Regions from separate parts of the Homo sapiens genome. Here regions 1, 3, 4 and 5 are each reported to be linked to region 2. The links are microRNA targets in miRTarBase. Many come from high-throughput screens and were not tested one by one. Region 2 holds a microRNA gene; each other region holds the end of a gene's coding sequence.

Region 1 (4,587 bases), not on the chromosome of region 2:
CCAATTAGTCCAGAAATTTTTCTTACTGAATCTTAATACTATATGTCAAATTCACTGATGAATGAAATTTTTTGGTATTACCTGATGGATAAAGTTCAACTAGCCAGAAAAAAGTCTCTTTGGACACACCCTGTACTGTATTAACTTATCTGTCATGGTGTATTAGTTGCACCAGCAGGAATGAATTCCTATTTTTAAGATCAGAAAAATCTAAATTTGTCATCCAGCTGTAACCTGCTGCCTTCATAGTCCTGTGGTATTTGTTAACTCAGTACCTGGGGCAGTTTCATAGCCTGCTTGTGGGAGTTAGGAATTGGTTTGTTCAGGCTACAATGAAACTATAAATATTCCCTATTCAGATGTTCAGTAAAAGTTCTTCTTACATCAAGCTTTCCCCTTGTTGCCTCATACTGACTGACTTCTCCCACCCCAGGCAGGAGACCCCAACAGGGAGATACCCCTCTCTACTCTTCAGGAATATTTGGGGTTGGTGACAGTGCCCCTTTCCAATTCTGAAATGGGTGAAAACCCTGCTGGCATGTGGCACCTTATATTAGCAATAAGGGCCTAACAGAATGACCTGTCTTCTTCTGTACTTCCAGATGCAGAAGTGGCCCTGAATCTTGGCTTCTTATGTAATTTCATGAGCAATTTGTTAACTTCTGGAAGAGCCACCGTTAGACCTGTGCTACCCTCCTCCCATAGTCACGGTAGTGAGTTTTGAGGGCAGAAATGGTGGTAGTAGTATTTCTTCTTGAGAGATGGTGGTTGGATCTAAGAGTCACATATTCAGAATTTCCTTTAGCTGCCCCTAAAGAGATTAAGAAAGTACTGGCCAGCCGTGGTGGCTCATGCTTGTAATCCCAATACTTTGGGAGGCCAAGGCGAAGGATTGCTTGAGTCCAGGAGTTTGAGATCAGCCTGGGCAACATAGTGAGACCTTTGTCTCTACAAAAAAAATAAATAAATAAACATTAGCTGGGCCTGGTGGCACTTGCCTATAATCCCAGCTACTCAGGAGACTGAGGTGGGAGAACTGCTTGAACCCGGGAGGTTGAGGCTGCAGTGAGCCATGATTGCGCCACTGCACTCCAGTCTGGGCAACAGAGAGAGACCCTGACTCAAAAAAAAAAAAAAAAGAGTATCAGTGTTTCAGGGGTTCCTACCAGTCCACCCTTCCCACTTCCCCTTCCTGCTACTCCTAATCACCTTTGACCTCTAACCCTTCATTGTTTGTGTCAAGTCATAATATTTGATTTCCCCTCATGCTCACTCCATCTTCATCAGCTCTTACTGTTTTACAGTTAACTCTGCTGTTTGCTGCATGCTGCATGAGACCCAGGGTCCTGGTAAGCTTGATTAACTCTAAATAGAACTGGCAGTGGCTTCTAGAACATATCTCCCCCAATCCCGCACCCCCAACACAAGCATCTAATCGTAGAAGAAGCTGCTTCATTGGTCTAGCTGGTTTTCTCTCGTGACTTATAATATGCAGAAATAGTCTGGTGTGGTTTCAGGTGTACATGTGGAATGCCTGCCTGCCTGCCTGATTAAAGTGAGGGGTCGTTTTCAGACTTTTGCTGCTAGAACAGCTGGGTAACACAGGTGGATCCTGTGATCAGTATTTGAGGTTTCAGTGTGGGAAGTTTTTTTCTTAAAGAGCCATAATCGGGCCGGACGCAGTGGCTCACAGACCTGTAATCCCAGCACTTTGGTAGGCCGAGGAGGGCAGATCACCTGAGGTCAGAAGATTGAGACCATCCTGGCTAACACGGTGAAGCTCCATCTCTACTAAAAATACAAAAAATTAGCCGGACATGGTGGCACAGGCCTGTAATCCCAGCTACTCTGGAGGCTGACACAGGAGAATCGCTTGAACCTGGGAGGCGGAGGTTGCAGTGAGCCGAGATTGCACCATTGTACTCTAGCCTGGGCAACAAGAGCGAAACTCCATCTCAAAAACAAAAGGAGCTATAACCATTATTTTCAAAATTAATGAAACCGTGGTGATGAGAGAAACTGGGTTTCACAAGCTCCGTCCTGCAATGTCACAGTCAGCATCAACCCTCTCCCATCCCCCTGCATCAGGTTTGAGAATGTCCAGAGTCAATGGAAACTCACTTCTCTGTTTCCCGCTGGTGGCAGTTTCATATCTGAGGGGTTCAAGTCCTCAAATTTCCTTTGACTGTACCCCTCAAAACCATAATAAGGCTGAGAGCAGTGGCTCACGCCTGTAATCTTAGCACTTTGGGAGGCCGAGGCGGGCGGATCACCTGAGGTCGGGAGTTCGAGACCAGCCTGACCAACATGGAGAAATCCTGTCTCTACTAAAAATACAAAATTAGCCGGGCGTGGTGGTGCATGCCTGTAATCCCAGCTACTCGGGAGGCTGAGGCAGGAGAATTGCTTGAACCTGGGAGGCGGAGGTTGCAGTGAGCCGAGATCGCACCTTTGCACTCCAGCCTGGGCAATAAGAGCGAAACTCCGTCTCAAAAAAACAAACAAACAAACAAACAAAAAAAAAAACAAAAAAAAAAAACCCATAATAAAAGCGGAGGAAAATGAAGAGATCTTAGAAATTATAGAGAATTCCTTACATTTAATCCTACAAGTACTGGCTTCATGAAAACCTCTTATAAGGAGATCAGCAGGTAAGGATTCCTGAGTGCTAGATGTTGTGTTAATAGAAGTTTATAAAGTTTCACATAGTTTATAGGGAGACTGAAAGCAGGGATTAAGGACCTTCTATCTCCTCTACTAGACTCAGGTAGTGGATGGAAAGGAAATACAAACATTTTTAATTTAACATAATTAGGGTTTTTTTTGTTTGTTTGTTTCTTTTTTTGAGACGGAGTCTCACTCTGTCACCGAGGCTGGAGTGCAGTGGCACAACCTCAGCTCCCTGCAACCTCCGCCTCCTGGGTTCAAGCAATTCTCATGCCTCAGCCTCCCAAGTAGCTGGGATTATAGGCATGTGCCACCATTCCTGGCTAATTTTTGTATTTTTAGCAGAGACCGGGTTTCACCACGTTGGCCCAGGCTGGTCTCAAACTCCTGACCTCAGGTGATCTGCCTACCTTGGCCTCCCAAAGTGCTGAGATTACAGGCGTGAGCCACCGCGCCCGATGAAGGGTTATTATTATTTTTTTTAAACTTTACCGTGGAAACTTTCAAACATGAGCAAAATAAGAGGATAATACAGTTCAGCCCCCAGGCAACCATAAACATATGCCTAATCTTGTTTCATCAATTACTACAGACCTGCTGAATTATTATAAAGCAAAACTATATCATTTTATCTGTAAATACTTTAGTATATATTTCCAAGAGATAATGATTCTTTAAAAAAACATAACCACAACCCCACCATTATCACACCTACAAAATGAACAATAATTCATTAACATGAAATGTCTAGTCAGTGTTTGAAACATCCCGGTTGTCTCATAAATGCCCTTTTACATTTGGTTTGTTTGGATCAGGGAATATAAAATATAGAGAAGACTTTTCCCCACTCACCCATGTAGTTTATGATTTAAATGGAGAGCCTGCTGTTAGTCACCAAACTGATTGCCGCAGCTATTGCACTGGGGACTCGGGGCAGCTGGCAAAACATCCTGCTTGGAAGCAAATCCTGAAGAGGAAGTCCATAGAGGTTTCTGCAACATAAGGCCCATGAAACCGGGCCAAAGGAAACAATCTTAAAAGAACAGTGACTTGATTTACTGTCTGGCTTAACAGCAAGTCTTGGAGCCCCTGCTAGTTGACTGGAATTAAACAGCAGATTTCCATTTAGGAAGACAGTCAGTTCCTAGAATGCCTGTCCATTCTTTGCACTGTATGTAGTTCCAGTGCGTAGTGAAGTGTCTGACATGTAATAGGAACTCAGTTCATGTGTTATGTTCTTTGTTCTCCCATTTTTAATGAGGTGAGCAGGAAATATGTATTCTAGTTAATGAGATTTCAGTTAATTCAGGTTTCACTGCACGTGGCTTGACACAGTTGCTTACAGGTTTCCCCAAGTAAATCATTGTTAGTGGCCATTCCTAAAATGAATTCTGGCAAAACTATAATTAAAGCTACACTTTACAAGTGAGAGGCAATTGGTAAACAGCTGGAACAGCCAACCCCAACCCCAAGTAGGTTGGCTCTTCCTGGCAGGATTCTCCCTGGCAGACCACGAAAGCAATTTCAGACCAACGAGTCAGGGGAGGCTTTGGCTCCCCAGGATCTGAAAGCAGCAAAGGCAACCCGCCCCCTCCTCAAAGCCCTCATTCAAGGGGTGGATCACGAAGGCCACCTAGAATGCAGGCAGAGTGAGGCTTACTGTGCCTCCACATTTTGAAATTGCTTGAGGCACTACTTATAGCTCTCTGCATTTGTAAAAGCGATTCCTTTGTGACCCCCTACATCGTTGCAGATACTCTACCTCAATCATTATTGGTCCTTAGGAGTGCACAGTATATGGATAGTATACACACATCAAAATACGTCAGCCTTCCCATGAAACCTAGAACATAGGCCATTGCAGTGTTTTTTAGATTACTCTTCCCCTAGGAAGTAGACAAAGAATAAAAATAAGATATG
Region 2 (4,587 bases):
TTAGTCTAACTCTGAAACAAAGATGATTGTCGCTCCTGAGACAAACCCCTTCCTTTCTTGGGGATCAGACCTCCTTAGCAAAGCTAACAAATTAGGCACGAGATTGGAATTTATGGCTCAGGAGCCGTGCAGCCAGAAGTCACATGATTCCTAAGCTCCCCAATTGTGCCTATATATAGTATTATTAGTGTCAAACCTAATATTGGTGTTTAAGATATTTTTCAGACCCTGCCTTGTGATGGACTAGCTGGTACCACTCAGACTGGTAAACTGGCTCATCTGGTCCTGTGGCCCCATCCAGGGACTGACTCAGTGCAAGTAAACAAGCTCTTACACCCTGTGATTTCCAACCAATCAGCTTTGCACATTCCCTAGCCCCCTGCCTGCCAAACTATCCTTAAAAAACAAAAAACCAAAAACCAAAAACCAAAACCAAAACAAAACAAAAACCCTAGTCTCTGAATTTTGGGGGAGGCAGATTTGAGTAATAATAAACCCCTGTCCTGGTCCCTCAGCTGCATCTGCATTTGTTAAATTCTTTCTCTATTGTGGAAAGCCTGCTGTTCTCAGCTCCATTGGCTTATCTGGGCAATGGGCAGAATAAACTTACCAGGCAGTTACACTAATAAAAGAGAAACACAAATTGTAAGCATGCTTCAAAAGAAATGTTAAGTCTTTGTATTTCTTTTGAAGAAACACAAAAGGAGGAGGAATGATAAGACAGGCAATACACTGTCCTAAATATTTTCATGATTCTCCTGCCTCCTTCATATCCTTCTTATCCCAACAACTTCTCCCCAGAAACCTTCAACTTAAACATGGTCCTGCCAGAACTGGGTTTGTCCTTCCCTTAACATTTTCCTCTCACCTGCCCTACACCCCTTCCAAATCTAATCTGTTCATTCACTTCCAGGTCATTGAGGATTTTCCATTTAAAAATATAAAAAATTCATAAAGAGGAAGATAACTGGTCATCCATATTCACACCTCCTGGAATTAACTACTGTTAACATATCTACATATTTTTCTTCCGAATCATTTTTAAGCTATTGTCTTTTTTAAAAAAAATTTATACATGCTAAGCATAGACCGTACTAACAGTAGAGAAAATGTAAACATATGTAAAATTTTTGATCACCTTAAGTTCAAAAATAACTTCTCATAACATTCGGGCAACACTGGAGTCATGGTATTGTGTTATATCTACAGAGAGAAGAAAGTATATTTTAGCTAGACTGTTCCCCCCAGGCCCCACAAAAGAAAAAAGAAGAAAAAAAATAAAGAAGGATATATATGCCTGAAAAAATTATAAAATTATAAAAATATATAAAATATATATTTAATATATAAAATTATATAGTATATATAATTCTATATTTAAAAATATAAAAATATATAAAAACATATATGTATGCTTTTATAAAATTGAGCTTAGACTCTATTTTTATTTTACAAATATTCCACTTAATAGTGCATGAACTTAACTGCAGACAAAGAGACAGAAACAGAAATGAAGGAATTCCTGAACTCCCTAGCACAGTTAGAAAGACATTTGTCTAAACGACTCCTCTAAGGGCAAACATACATTAAATTAAGGAGAAGACATTAAGATTTGGAGTGGTTTTCTTATTCCTTTTTACAACCAAGTTAAGGTGTGAGTTGCCTATGGTACAATGCATCCATTTCAAGTTTGATGACTATTACTCTAAAAGGTCCTCTTGTGCCCTTTGCAGTCAGTCCCGCCCTCCCCCTGGCCCCAGCAATTAATGATGTATTTTCTGTCACTATACAGGTTAGTTTTACCTGTTCTAGAAATTCACCTTGATGGCGCCACACAGGATGCCCTCTTTTCATCACTCGGCATGATGTTTTTGAGGTAATCCATGCTATCTCATGTTTCTGTAATGTGTCCCATTTTATTGCTGGGTAGTTGGGGTAGATCGCCGACACATTCTGCCGACAAGTCAGACTGCGGTTCTGACCTGAAGGCCTCGGTGAACATAAGCAAGGGCACCTGGGCGCGGGGAGAGCCGTTCCCCTACAGAAAGCAAGCGTGTTGTGTCTACAACCGAACAGGGACACTGCTTTCATCCCAAAGAACAGCACCCGTCTGCCTAGAATTTCTACCTGGCTCTAGGAGGTGAGAACACATTCCCCGCTAGCACAGAAATCCTACAAACTTCTGTGGGGGCTGCGGTTAGAAGCACAGGCTGTGTGAAAGGTGACTCCGGGGGCTACGAAAAAACACGAAGGTTTTCACATAGGGTGAGAACCCAAGACACTGGAGACCATGAAGCAATCTTGAAAAAGCAGCCCCACGTGGAAAGGGAAGAGAAGAGCACTGGGGCCACTTAGCTTGTGTTAAGCAAGCTCATGATAGGGGCGGAGAGGACAGTAACACAATACTTTCTCTTTCTTATGCTTGCGACTGTAGGACAACACTTAACATGCCAGCAAAGCTACAAACCCGTAGAAAGCTAAGTAGAAACTAAGAGTAGCCCTTCCTGCAGAATTCACTTTTTGCACTGCAAGATTTCAGCGGAAAGCACTAACGCAGTTCTCCACTGTTATTGTGCAGCCAAATTTCTCCCATTTGGGTTAATCGCAGGATCAGCACGTCCACAGTGCAATGGAAAAGCAACGCCCTGGGAAAACAACCTTCATAACGTCCTCTCCGATGCCAGGTAATTAGGAGTTCACACGTTTCCGTCTTGCTACTGCTCCACACGCCTCACCCTTTTTACACACGGTCACTTGCCCCGCGCACCCCGGAGCCCTTCCAGCCTTGACACACAGCTGGGACTTTCAGGTCTGAACAGCGGTCCTGGACTTGCTCCCACAGCACGGGAACTCCTTCGTAGCGAAGCAGCCGGTGGCGAAGCAGCAGCCCCTGTGCTGCCTCATCTACATAGAAGTCGCCCTATCCGTGATGTCACTGACAGCGCCTTTCCCGTCCGGCTCTGCTTTTCCGCCCCACCTTCTGCCACTCAGCCGACCAACATGCTGCCAGAGACTGCGGGGACAGTGACGTCTGCCTTTCCTTCCTTTCCCTCCCTTCCCCGCCCCAATCTTTCCAAGGAAGCAGGTGTTTCTGTTGTAGTTTTTTGTTTTGAGCCGCAGTCTCGCTCTGTCGCCCAGGCTGGAGTGCAGTCGCATCATCTCTGCTTCCTGCAACCTCCGCCTCCAGGGTTGAAGCGATTCTCCTGCCTCAGGCTTCTGCGTAGCTGGGATTACAGGAGCACACCACCAAGCCCTGCTAATTTTTGTATTTTTAGTAGAGACGGGGTTTCACCATGTTGGCCAGGCTGATCTCGAACTCCTGACCTCAGGTGATCCGCCCGCCTCGGCCTCCCAAAGTGCTGGGATTACAGGCTGAGCCATCATGCCCGCCCAGAAGCCGGTTCTTAGCCTGTGTTGCCGATGACCTCTTTGGCAGACAGCTGGAGGCTGTCCACCCTTCTTCAAATAATGGTTTGTAATGCGCAGACTAAAACATGTAGGATTACACAAGAAACTAGTTCTCTTCCCATCGTTATTCTTCTGATGTAGCATTCTACTTGAAATTGGAAGCCGTTCAGTATCAGAGAGAAACCATATCTATGAAACTAGAGATGCTGCTCAGATGACTGCAAACCAGCCATCCTTACTTGTTTTACCATTAGTAGTGCTATAAAGACGGTGGTCCAATTTCATGAATCTTGTAGGATTTTTTCAAATACAGCAATGTACAAATATGCTGCCCCAGCAGAGCACACTGGACACTCAGGCATGGTGCTGGAGTTTGTCATCTCTTCCATGGCCTTCTGTAGACCGTAGCACTTACCTCATGTTAGCACTTTATATTCTGCAAAGAGAGAAACAAGTGGTCCAAATTTGGAGAAAAAAAATTGGGGGAAATTTTATTTGAGGTGCTTAACTGATTACTTTTAATTTGTAGAATACAATCCCAAACTCTGACAATACTCCACAGACTCCAAATCTATCAGGCAAGTTTTTCCTGTCCTTTGCTTTCATATAAATCAAATCATAAAGTGTGTAGTGGGTTTTGGGGGAGTATAACTGCGCAGTGGGTTCCTGTTGCCTGCTGCCTAGACAGAACCAATTTATCAAGACAGGGGAATTGCAATAAAGAAAGTTGTTTACCCAGAGCTGGCTGTGTGGGAGACCAGAGTTTTATTATTACTCAAATCAGTCTTCCTGAGCATTCTAGGACCAGAGTTTTTAGGGATAATTTGGTGGGTGGGGGACAGTGAGTTGGGAGTTCTGATTGGACAGGTCAGAGATGAACTCACAGGGAGCTAAAGCATGCTCTTGAGCTGGGTCAGTTCCTGGGTGGGGGCCACAGGATCAGATGAGCTGGTTTATCCATCTGGGTGGTGCCAGCTGATGCATCGAGTGCAGGGCTACAAAATATCTCACAAACCGATCTTAGGTTTTACAATGGTGATGTGATCCCCAGGAACAACTTGGGGAGGTTTAGAATCTTGTAAGCTAGAGGCTGCATGATCCTAAACCATGATTTATAATCTTGTGGCTAATTTGTTAGTCCTGCAAAGGCAGCCTAGTCCCCAGGCAGGAAGGGGGTTT
Region 3 (3,000 bases), not on the chromosome of region 2:
CAGTTACCCCAAGTGGTGCTACCACAGTGATGTGTATAAGCATGCTACCATAATTCTCAAAAGATAATAGTTACATACGTTAAAAGGGGAAAATGATGATTGTGTAGGTAAACCACACATAAAACCTTTCTGATTTCAGGTAACTATGGTGGTGGTGGGAACTATAATGATTTTGGAAATTATAGTGGACAACAGCAATCAAATTATGGACCCATGAAAGGGGGCAGTTTTGGTGGAAGAAGCTCGGGCAGTCCCTATGGTGGTAAGTACTTTCTTAAATCAATTCTTTAGAGCCTTTTTAATTTAAAAAATGTGCATACTTCTTTTAAAATACTATGTATATTTTCAGGTGGTTATGGATCTGGTGGTGGAAGTGGTGGATATGGTAGCAGAAGGTTCTAAAAACAGCAGAAAAGGGTAGGTATCTTTAAATTTTTATTATGATGATAAAAGAATATGTGGAACTGTTCACTGAGTGTAATAATTTTTTTATCCTGTATTATTCAACAGGCTACAGTTCTTAGCAGGAGAGAGAGCGAGGAGTTGTCAGGAAAGCTGCAGGTTACTTTGAGACAGTCGTCCCAAATGCATTAGAGGAACTGTAAAAATCTGCCACAGAAGGAACGATGATCCATAGTCAGAAAAGTTACTGCAGCTTAAACAGGAAACCCTTCTTGTTCAGGACTGTCATAGCCACAGTTTGCAAAAAGTGCAGCTATTGATTAATGCAATGTAGTGTCAATTAGATGTACATTCCTGAGGTCTTTTATCTGTTGTAGCTTTGTCTTTTTCTTTTTCTTTTCATTACATCAGGTATATTGCCCTGTAAATTGTGGTAGTGGTACCAGGAATAAAAAATTAAGGAATTTTTAACTTTTCAATATTTGTGTAGTTCAGTTTTTCTACATTTTAGTACAGAAACTTTAACAAAATGCAGTTTCGAAGGTGTTTCCTTGTGAGTTAACAAGTAAAGAAGATCATTGTTAATTACTATTTTGTATGAATTTTGCTAAAGTTAACTGTAAAGAAACACCTGCTGACTTGCAGTTTAAGGGGAATCTATTCTCCCCATTTCCAAACCATGATATGAATGGGCGCTGACATGTGGAGAGAATAGATAATTTGTGTGTTTGCAATGTGTGTTTTAGATAAATAGGATTGGGTATTTAAATTAGCATTTGTGAATTTAATAGCATTAAGATTACCTTCAAATGAAAAAAAATCTCAAAATTTCTATTTGGTTTTTGTGCATTTTCTTTTAAAATGTAATCATATGATTTTAGTGTGTTAGACTTGCTGAGTCCTAGCTGTGTTTAGAACATCTCTATTCTACATTTACCTTGGTCAAATTTGAACTGCTGCCATAGGTTTTGGGTGTAAAGAATGTTTACTGCCCTCCATTTAAATTCTGAAAAGGGATGGTGGATGTTTTCCCTCTCCTACGTTAGAAACCATTCTTAAAAACTTTTGAAAATATAGAACCATTAAGCCTGCTATATCTGAGCAAATTAGTGGGTACCTTTTTTTTCTTATTTAAAGCACAAGAGGCCCATAAATCTTGAGTTACTTTAAATTCTTTTTTTTGATACAAGTTTTCAGAGCAAGAGAATAAAAATCATGTGTTATTAAACCCCTAACTGGCTGGCATGCTTTCCTGTTTGTATTCTATACATTTTGCTGGATGAAACCAAGGATAGTTCAGGTATAATTGTCCAAAATAACCTAACTGCAGCAGAAATGTAGCACAGTTGCTTAGTACAGGCTTCTCACTTCCTACAGACCTGAATTCAAATTTGGATAGTCTGAGTTCTTAAATTCCCAAAGAACACACTGTTATTTCTTGTGTATATTTCAACATAAATCATGTTGTTACCAATTTGTTTGGAAGGCCCTGGTTGAGAAGAGTTTTAGTTAATAAGGTCATATATACATATATTAATATAAACCAATGTCTACTGTTTTGCTCCAGCTAGTGCTTACAGTTTCATTCGAGCCCTGAGTATGTGCCCTGCTGTTACTCTCTTTGGTAGTTGAACGTTGAATTCAAGTCTTTTGTTTTAAGAAGTACTAAGCAAACAAGCAATAAAAAGGGGAATGGGGTGTGCTAGTGTTTGAATATGCTCTCTTGTTGCTCTAATTCTGTGCCTCTGTGCATTAATATTTGGATGCATGCAATGCCAGCATGGAAATTGGTCTTCACACATACTGCAGTTTTCCAGAAACATTCACAAACCAATAAATGTAACAGACATTCCATTTGTTAATGGGCATATATGTGAAAAGCAGTGTAGAAAATAGGCTAATATTAGAAAATGGTTAAGTCCTAAATAACTTCAAGTGTGGTTATATAATGGACACTGTCAATGTTCATAACTTAAACCTGGGTACCTGGTCAAAATAATGCTTGGGAAACATTAAAATTGAGCTAAATTGTCTCAAGTTCTTTTATTCATATAAATAAAGTTTAAAGGAATGGGGGAGATTAACATTTCCTGTTTTATGTTTGTGAAATTGTTTGACACAACCTTGACAGTATCCTTTAATGGCATGAGGTTAATTGTACTGTTAACCAACTTTCTATGTTCTGGAACTAGTATTATAGTGAAAACATTTACAGTAAGTTGATGTTTACAACCTATAAGCAGGTGAAATCTGTGTATGTGACCTGTTTATAAGTTGTATTAGCTTAGCTCTTGTGAACAGTGTGGAAAAGTAAGCCATGAGGAGAGCGATTTAACCACCTTTAAAGGACCTAAGATGTGCTTTTTAAGCACAGTGTGGATCACAGAAACTCACTAAGACAGGACTTCAGCAGCCTTTTGTGTTTGGACAAGTCAGCATAAATAAAGAATGACAAGGCAGCAGCAAGAGCTTCAACTACAGAGAAGTGAAGGCATAAGATACTATGATGATAGTGAGCAACTTTCCAAAAGCTAGTTAAATCTGCTTATTACAACTGAAATATCGAAGAAAGTCTAGCAGGAAGGAGCTCTTCGCCTT
Region 4 (4,520 bases), not on the chromosome of region 2:
TTTCTTTTCTTTTTTTTTTTTTTTTTTTTTGAGACAGTCTTGCTTTGATCACCCAGGTACAATCTCGACTCACTGCAAATTCCACCTCCAGGTTCAAGGGATTCTCTGCCTCAGCCTCCCCAGTAGCTGGGATTATAGGTGCGTGCCACCAAGCCCGGTTAATTTTTGTATTTTTAGTAGAGATGGGGTTTCGCCATATTGGCCATGTTGGTCTCCAACTCCTGACCTCAGGTGATCCGCCCACCTCAGCTTCCCAAAGTGCTGGGATCACAGGCGTGAGCCACTGTGCCTGGCTGTGGATGGATTTTCTTTCTTTCCTTTTCGTTTCTTTTTTTTTTTTTTTTTTTTTTCAAGATGGAGTCTCACTCTGTCGCCAGGCTGGAGTGCAGTGGCGCGATCTCGGCTCATTGCAACCTCTGCCTCCCGGGTTGAAGTGTTTCTCCTGCCTCAGCCTCCCGAGTAGCTGGGACTACAGGCACACACCACCATGCCCAGCTAATTTTTGTATTTTTAGTGGAGACGGGGTTTCACCATGTTGGCCAGGATGATCTCGATCTCTTGACCTCGTGATCTGCCTGCCTCGGCCTCACAAAGTGCTCGGATTACAGGCATGAGCCACCGCGCATGGCCAATGGATTGTATTTCTAAAGGAAAAGATACATAGAAGGGAAGAATATTCATTAAGAAAACACAGGAGTGTGTAAATAATGTTGAGTTTGTCTGTATTGCCTAGAGCAGGTAAAAGATAAATGGAGGATCTTGGTTTCCAGGTTTAAAATGCTTAGAATATATGTAGTAGATAATAAGAGCAAAAGCACAGAGTTTGGAAATTGTAAACAGAGGCATGTTCACAGGCCAGCAAATCCATCAGTTTGACTGGAGCAGTGCCTTGGGGTATGAGTGGTGGCAGAAGGAGCAGGGTGAGTTGACTGGGGAAGTCAGTTAAGACCCAAAGGTGAAGGGTCTTGATGGCAGGCCAAGGACTTGGGGCTTTGTCCTGAAGACAGGGCTGATGCTAAGCTTAAAATACTTCCGGAGCTACTGCCCTGAGCCCAAGTGCTCCCCCATCCCTATTCCAGGACCCCTGGACTGGCTTCAGCAACGAAAGGGCTAAGTTTAGAAAGGATTAGAGATTAAGTATTTTGAGTATCACCCCTACCTGTAGGCCAGGAGGAGTCAGTGAGGGCTTTTTATCAAAGGGCAAATGGGAGGGGTTGAGACAGATCACGCTGGGAGCCCCTGTGTGTCTTGGGTAGTTTGAACTAGGGTGGAGGCTTCTGGGAATGTGGAAGAAAGGCGAGGTTTTACGGACATTGCAAACCACAAGCTGGACTTCGGGAGACGGGAGAGGGGGATGGGGGTGAAGTGAAGGCAACGATCAGACAGCTCTGAAATTTCAAATTTAAGAGGTCAGGAAAACAGTGGCACCATTAACAGAAATAGGCAAGTCGTGACGGCCTTTTTGTTTGCTTGATTTTTATTATTATTATTATTATTATTATTATTATTATTATTATACTTTAAGTTCTGGGATACATGTGCAGAACGTGCAGGTTTGTTACATAGGTATACATGTGCCATGGTGGTTTGCTGCACCCATCAACCCGTCATCTTGGAAAGGTTTTTTGTGAGCGTGGAAATAATTTAAAAATCCATTGTTGGCCAGCCGTGGTTGCTCACGCCTGTAATCCCAGCACTTTGGGAGGCCAAGGTGGGTGGATCACCTGAGGCCAGGAGTTCGAGACCAGCCTGGCCGAAATGGTGAAACCCTGGCTCTACTGAAAATACAAAAATTAGCTGGGCATGGTGGCATGTGCCTGTACTCCCAGCTACTCAGGAGGCTGAGGCAGGAGAATCACTTGAGCCTGGGAGGCAGAGGTTGCAGTGAACCGAGATTGCACCACTGCACTCCAGCCGACAGAGCAAGACTCTGACTCAAAAACAAACGAACAAACAAAAACATTGTTGATAGAGGGGCTATCTTTAAGGAGCTGACAAGCACCCACATGGAAATGTTCAGCAGATTGCTGGAAATGTGAGCCAGGAGCTTAAGAGAAAGGTTGGGACTGGAGCTCTAGATTTAGGACCCATCTCCGAGGAGCCAAAATGAGCCCAAAATGGATGAGATTCTTGAACAGCCACGTTGGAAGTGGTAGGTGAAGAACCAGCCCCGGAAAGGGTGATGGGGGATGCAGGAGAGCCCAGCTAGTGTGGGCTCACGGGGGCCCGAGAACTGTGAAGAAGACATTTGATTTCACCATGAGGTCATTGATGACCTTCCAGCAATGAGTTTCCATGGAGTTGGAGTAGGGGTGGCAGAAACCAGTTTTCAGGTGGGGGCGGGGCTACCCCAACCCATGCAGCACCTTTATGCAAAATTTTTTTTTAATGGTGACCCTTTATCAAGATGCTTACTTTCAACCATCAGGAAACTGTCATAATAAACTGATTTTATTAGAAAAAGGCACTTTAATGCCAACTGCTGGAAACACGCATAGTAAATACATTTGCACAACCAAACACAGTGCCCTCCAGGGGGCAGGGAGAAGAAGAGTAGGAGAGGGTGATAGTTGTTGGCTTAACAAAGAAGAGAAGAGCGAGAGCGCGGCCAGGGGAGGTAGTTAGGTCAAGTGGATGGTTCTGTACCAAGGACACAGCAAAGGTCCTCAGGCACTGATTCACATTACCCAAAGTCACCAGATAATAGAGTTGTTTCCGTGGCTGACATTTCTTAGCCTTGCCCTCAAACTTGGCAGGAGGGAGGCAAGCTCGTTTAAAGAAGGGAGAGGGGAGGAGATCCAGGCAATTGGCCTAGGGGTTGGCTTTGAGAGAGAATAGGTTGACCCTTCCTCGGAAAGAGGGAAGGGGGAAGCAGGGAGCCACGAAGAGAGAGAGGTGCCACGGGAACTCCTGGCTGCCGACTCCCGTCTTCTTGGTGAAGGAGTCAGGGTTAGGTGTGAAAGTGGGAGATGAGGGGCATTGGTACACCCAAGGAGGTCTGCTGCAGTCATCACAGAGGCAGGCTGGTCCGCCTTCGAGGTGAGTTGCAGGCAGGCTGAGCAGCAGAAACCATGTGGTAGGTGCCCATGCTTGAGCAGGAATGGGGGTGGACCCCATCTAGGTCGCTGCCGGACTAGCCGCAGTGATGCCTGACAGCTGGAAAATGTCAAAAAGTAATCAAGAGGGAGCCCAGGATCGGGGAAGTAGGCTGGGGTGTCAGCAAAGGCTATTGTCTGGCGGGGGGCCGGTATCACACAAACAGCCCAAGCCCTAGGCACAAATACTCAATGAATTCAGCTCTGGGGGCTTTGTGGCTAGCTCTGAGGCTGGAGGGCACTTCATCCCCGTCTAAATCCTTCAGCAAAGCACTTTGGGGTGGCCCAAGATTCCAGCCTGACTGCAAGGTGACTGTGGTTGCTAACACGGCAAACTCCAGGAAGAGTACCTTGGTCCAGCCAGTGAGGGCTGCTCCCAGAGCTGACTTCCCTTCCCTCCCTTCGTGGTTTTACCCCACTCGGCCTTTGTGTCCCTGAGGAGCGCATCTTCCCCAATGTGCATGCGCATCAAAGCGTTCCTACTCTGCACTCGTTCCAGCTCTACAACATCTCCAGATTCGGAGGATCAAACTTGTACCCCATAGTCTCAGAGCAACTGAATCTCGGCATGAACAAAGGGAATTAGAGAATGCTTTCCCTTAAAAACAAAATCCCTATCCCTGTGGCTGATCCACGGAGACATACACACACCCTTGGAGACAAGACCTCACAGCTACAGCCCTGTCCTCCCCAAAGAAACTAAGATACAGACCAACAAGTACACACAAGTACATACAGGGATATTCACATATAGGGTAGTAAATTCCCTGTGTAGGGAATGCAGCCAGTGAGATAGAGCCAGGTAGAAGGGCTCTTCTCACAAAGCTGCTGCACAAACCCTGGCCACAAACTTCTGCCTGGCTCAAGGCTTTTTCCCTCCATCACCAAGTCAGCCCGTTATGCTGCCAAAAGCATATGCCCTAGTGCTCTTGAAGGCCATAGTCTGATGCCAGGGATGCTTAAGCTGGGCACTGTTTGGCCACAGTGACACCAGGCAGGGCCGGGGGACTTGGGGTCAAGTGTATTGACATCCCACTGAAATGCAGGGGCAGGTGTGCTACTGAAGTCGGTCCCTATGAAAATGCTGCTCAATTTTGCCTGGTGGGTCACACTTGCCCTGACCCCTTTGCTTATATGTCATGGGGCTCCATCTTAATGAGGGAAGTAGGGTTGAATGGGGAGAAAGGGGCTGGGGTGGGGGATCTTGTCAGAAGGCTCCCAGATGTGGTCACACTAGGCTCAGCCATCAGCAGGGACCCTGAGCCTGAGGAGAGCTCAAGTTCAGCCACTGGGGTCAGCCCAACAGTGGGGCGGCTGGGAGGAGACAAAGTCTGGTTGCCCAGAAGGCTCGGATTGTGGGAACCCCTGGAAACCACCTGGGTTGGAAGTGGCTGAAGATGAGCCTGATCTCTCAGGAGCTCCCTC
Region 5 (4,587 bases), not on the chromosome of region 2:
TTCCCCCCCAACTTTTCCATGTCTTTAATCTGGTTTTCATGCCTGAATCCAAATCACTGTAGGAGACTTTCTTAGGGAATTTATTATTAGAAAGTGAGGCATCCCTGTTTCACCCATCTTTTGAGAGAGTGTATTTGACCAGCTCCAGGTCTGTTTTACTATAAAATACTACAGTTTTTCTAATAGTTTCTTCCTCCCCCAATTTTAAAACCCCTTAGCCCAGTGGTTGTCAACCTTAGCTGCACAGTGGATTCAAATCACCTGGGAGCTTCAAAAAATACAGATACTGATCTAATTGATCTGGGGTGTGATGTGGGGTCAGGAGTCTTAAAAGCTCCCTGAGTGATTCTAACATGCGGACAAAGTTGACAGCCCTTGTTTTAGCTCAGCTTCCAGAATCACGCACTCATTAGTTTTCCCATGGTATTCAGTGCCCTTTAACCTCTGTAGAGATTGATGACAGTACTGGCTCAAAATAGAAACAGTCAAAGAAAGGCAGACCTATTTATTTTTGCCTAGACAGGTTTCCCTGTGTTTCTAACAAACAATATAAACTGAATTTTCCTTATCTTTAAAATAAGGTTAAACCAAATGATTTCAAACTTTCCTGTGCTCAGTTCTGCTTTAATTAATATAATCCAGAGGACAGTATCCTGGTTACTTCTGTTTAGTTTAAATGGACAAAAAGGCAGAGTCTGTCATCAAGTAGGGAAATAAAAGAGAAGGGTTTTGGTTTGAAGCTGACCAGGCAACACTCTCTGCTCCTTAGAAGGCCTGGTAGCTGGTCTGGGCTGTTACTATTCAAAGTGTGGTCCATGGACCACTAGCATCAGCATCATCAGGGAATGGTTAGCAACACAAAACCTCTGGGCCCACACCAGACTTAATCAGATCAGGATCTGCAACTTAACAGAGTCTTCAGATGGTTAGTATGAACTTCAAAGTGTGAGAAGCACTGGCTTAGGCCACATTCTATTTACTTAGTGACCTGGACACCTACGTATACCTATGTCTGAAGGTCTGAAGACATCACATGTCTGCCTCTGAATGTGGTCTGTCAACTGCTTTTCTCTTCCCTAGGTGAGGAAGCTCTAAATGAATATCTCAAAACCAAGACGGTGACACTGGAATATTAGAGCAACACCATCATCAGGAAAGCCTTGACAGACAGCCCTTTACAACTCTGGACACACTTAAGAAGATTGGGTGTGTTGAGGCAGGAGGTGTCAGCCACAAACCAAAAAATACACAGATGGACCATGAAGAGGGCCAGGCCATGTTAAAGCATTTACACATGTGCCTGAGTATTTTCTAATACACCTTCCAGTGATTTGGAGTTGTTGCATTTTGACTATGTTGTATATCATACGTATTTCTAAAATACCAAGCTGTTTCTCCCCTACCTAGACAAATCTATTCATGGTTCCCATCTTGAAGATGTCAGTACCATGCAGTTATAATACACAAGGTGCATTTATTGGAAACTTTGTATAATATGTACAGGTTTTTAACCTCTGAACTATACATAGGGGGTTATTAAAAAGATTTTCTATAAGTCTTCTAAGGAACAGTATAACCTGTAAGGAATGTGAAGGTAGTTCTTTTTTAGTATTTGGAAATAAGATACATCTTTGTGCCTTTGATATTCCATTTTTTAACCCACTGTGATGGGTGATCAACCTAGAAACATTATCTTGAGTACCTACTAGGTACCAGGTACTATATTATGTTCTGAGGAGTATAGAGAATTTAATGATATGATGGCTGGCCCCCACATAGTTTAAATTTTAGTAAATAGCTTTTGAAGCAAATTTTACATATGATATAGTAGAAGGCTGATCCTGGTCGTATCATACCATCTTCCTATCTATGTAACTTTGGGAAACTCTCGCAACTCCTCTGAGCCTCTGCTTCCCTATGTGTAAAACAGGGATAGTAAATGCCTTCCTCAGGACCCTTAATAGGAGAATTCATTGCAGTAATGTAAGTAAAGCACCTCACATTAATGCTTTGCTCATGGTAAGTACTCAAATTTAACTCTGATTTCCTCCGTCACCATTCTTAAAAGATATTGAGATAGTTTAATTAACTAGATGAATTCATTTCCCACAACCCTTTTCAATCATCAATTCCTAGATATTTTTCTCATCCATTGTTCTGACACAATGCCTGATACAGCAGCACTGAAAAATGCCACACAATGAAAAATGGCAATAGTACAAGGAAAAGGGGTGCTTTTCTTTGGGCAGCTCGCTCGTCCTTCATGGGACATCTTACTTTCCATTTTTCTACCTATTGGTTCTGCTGTTCACTGGCTGTGTGATCTTGGGCAAGATAGTAATCTAATATCTCAGAGCCTAGGTTGAGTATCTATAAAATGAAAATCAAATCTCTATCTCAGTAGGTGTTGCAAGGATTCAGTGAGATAATATACATAATGCACTTAACAAGGCGTTTGGACCATAGCATTGAAGAAATGGAAACTATTAACAGCCCATTTCCCATTGGCAGACAGAAGTAGTCAGGTGAGTAAATTTTCACCATCTATGTGTGACTAGAAGGCGGCAAATTTCTGAATCACATGAGTCTCCAAAAGATAGCCAGAAAGTTAAATTCTATTAATCCTCCTTTAAAAATAAAATTTCAGTAAACATTCCTTTTTCTTTGGCTTTGAAGAAGCCTTAGGGAATATTTGTCATTTTGGAGACTTGGCAGAATAACATGAGGGGATTGTAGGGAATCAATAAAAACTAAACAACAAAATCAGAGTCAGAGAACATTTTCAAAAGGAAGAATAGGAGGTTTGATCCCAGCATGATAAACAGAGCGAATTTGGCCTGGAAGCACTTTTGATTATACTATAGCTCATTTACCATCCCAGAGTTTGGCACAGCTGAAATTTTAAGTTGGAATGAATATTCACTGGGCCCAAAATGACAGTTCATATTTGAATAAAAGTGACAAAAGCCTTTTTATAAGTAATCACTTTTAAGTGAAATGTTTTAACTGATTTCATGTGATTTAGAATATGATTTAATCAAATTATTTTAATGATAGATGGAATGGCAGACAAAAACATGCCTGTCCTTCTAGACTGATTTTACTTTACCCTCTAATATTCATCTCAGTAGCAGTGTTTTAAATATTCTCTGGGCTGCAAAACTCTTTGGGAATCTGATAAAAGCTATGAACACTCCCTGTGTCCCGCTTCTACCCCCAAAATTCATGTGCACACACACAATTCTGCAAGTATCTTCAAAGGGTTCACAGACCTCCCAAAGGCCATGCTTGGGCCCCAGATTAAGAACTCCTTTCTCCATAGCAAGTTTTAAACATTTCTTACCAGCTTACATTTTTAGATCTGGCTGATCAGAATCAAAGGCTCTGTGTAATACATAAAGTTACCAAGTGAACTGGAATTGGAACATCACCCTCCCCAGCCTGCTAGGTGATTTACTTAACACATAGAGTAATAAAATCATCGCTGTTGCTTTAGATCACGGATTATTTTGCTAATAATGCTAAGGATGAAGCTGTGATCTTATTATCACCTGAATCGGGAGGTGTGGACACTTTAAGCAGTTCCACTTTCCTTCTAATTCCCCATCCCCATGCCTTTGCTAAAGCTGTCCCTTTTGCTCTAACACCCTTCCTGGACCTTCCTACCCTAGCTGGGCTAAGTGTTTCTCCTCAGCGTTCCCACTTGTTTCAAACATAGCACTTACCACTTGTACTAAAATTACTTGCCTTCTTAATTAGATATGAACAACCCTCCCCAACTCCAGTATGGGCCTTCTGTCAATAATAATACGATATGACAGCTACCATTTATTAAGGGCCTCCTGTATGAAAGACCTTAGGCTAAGCATGTTTTAAATGTTATTTAATCTTCACAATCTCTGAAAAAAATGAAGAAATCAACGTGCTTTTCTTACTACCTCTACCCCTAAGCCATTATTACTTTTTTTTTTTTTTGAGACAGAGTTTTGCTCTTGTTGCCCAGGCTGCAGTGCAGTGGTGCAATCTTGGCTCACTGCAACCTCTGCCTCTTGGGTTCAAGCGATTGTCATGCCTTAGCCTTCCAAGTAGCTGGGATTACAGGTGTGTGCCACTACACCTGGCTAAGTAGAGATGGGGTTTCGCCATGTTGGCCAGGCTGGTCTTGAACTCCTGACCTCAAGTGATCCACCTGCCTCCGCCTCCCAAAGTGCTGGGATTACAGGCATGAACCACTGCACCTGGCCTGTTACCTCTTTCCTACAATTTTGCTCAAGTCTCCCAACTGGTCTTCTGGATTCCTCTCTTCTGCGGTCCTGTTCAAAGCTTAAGTCAGACAGTGTCACTTCACTCGTCTGTTTAAAACCTTTCAATGGCCCCCATTTCACGTAGACCAAAGTCCAACGTATTTACCTGGCCTACTGATCTTGCTCCTAGCTACCTCTGACCTCATCTCCTGTCAATTTCCCTCTCATTCTGTTCCACCATCCTGACTGCCTTGACTTCCTCAACAGAACAAGCCTGCTCCTGCCTCAGGGCCTCTGTCCTTATTCTTCCTCTTCCCAGGGGTGTGCTGGTAAAATATTTAAC

What was found. Region 2 holds the annotated microRNA hsa-miR-5087 (GGGUUUGUAGCUUUGCUGGCAUG, at 2,447-2,469, opposite strand). A microRNA usually pairs through its seed, bases 2 to 8, with sites in the 3' UTR of a target mRNA and lowers its output. Matches are read on the target gene's strand: a 7mer-m8 pairs with bases 2 to 8, a 7mer-A1 pairs with bases 2 to 7 and ends in A, and an 8mer does both.
Region 1: the mRNA of SEPTIN6 is a reported target of hsa-miR-5087. The part of its 3' UTR that is shown has no 7-base or 8-base seed match.
Region 3: the mRNA of HNRNPA3 is a reported target of hsa-miR-5087. Seed matches in the 3' UTR shown: 7mer-A1 at 1,076-1,082 and 8mer at 2,228-2,235.
Region 4: the mRNA of ELF4 is a reported target of hsa-miR-5087. Seed matches in the 3' UTR shown: 7mer-A1 at 1,584-1,590 and 7mer-m8 at 1,553-1,559.
Region 5: the mRNA of ALDH1L2 is a reported target of hsa-miR-5087. Seed matches in the 3' UTR shown: 8mer at 1,233-1,240.

The regions. Positions count from the first base shown.
Region 1 is chrX:119,622,097-119,626,683 of GRCh38, reverse strand. SEPTIN6 (septin 6) reads left to right here. Exons shown (of 11, transcript NM_145799.4): 10 at 1,305-1,349. The coding sequence ends at 1,308. Among named protein-coding and RNA genes, the nearest start is that of NKRF, 18 kb to the right of the region's middle.
Region 2 is chr1:148,332,076-148,336,662 of GRCh38, forward strand. MIR5087 (microRNA 5087) reads right to left here and starts at 2,479; the gene lies at 2,404-2,479. LOC124904404 (a long non-coding RNA gene) reads left to right here and starts at 1,790. Exons shown (of 3, transcript XR_007066576.1): 1 at 1,790-1,876; 2 at 2,579-2,684. LOC124904402 (a long non-coding RNA gene) reads right to left here. Exons shown (of 3, transcript XR_007066574.1): 3 at 3,339-3,844. It also overlaps the pseudogene RNVU1-21. RefSeq lists enhancers at 2,217-2,296, 2,647-2,946, 2,662-3,171, 3,172-3,679, 3,227-3,336.
Region 3 is chr2:177,218,898-177,221,897 of GRCh38, forward strand. HNRNPA3 (heterogeneous nuclear ribonucleoprotein A3) reads left to right here. Exons shown (of 11, transcript NM_194247.4): 9 at 140-262; 10 at 350-417; 11 at 511-3,000. The coding sequence ends at 402. Among named protein-coding and RNA genes, the nearest start is that of HNRNPA3, 7.6 kb to the left of the region's middle.
Region 4 is chrX:130,062,496-130,067,015 of GRCh38, forward strand. It overlaps ELF4 (E74 like ETS transcription factor 4), which reads right to left. Exons shown (of 9, transcript NM_001421.4): 9 at 1,460-4,520. The coding sequence ends at 4,226. Among named protein-coding and RNA genes, the nearest start is that of ELF4, 46 kb to the right of the region's middle.
Region 5 is chr12:105,020,973-105,025,559 of GRCh38, reverse strand. It overlaps ALDH1L2 (aldehyde dehydrogenase 1 family member L2), which reads left to right. Exons shown (of 23, transcript NM_001034173.4): 23 at 1,081-4,587. The coding sequence ends at 1,136. Among named protein-coding and RNA genes, the nearest start is that of NOPCHAP1, 37 kb to the right of the region's middle.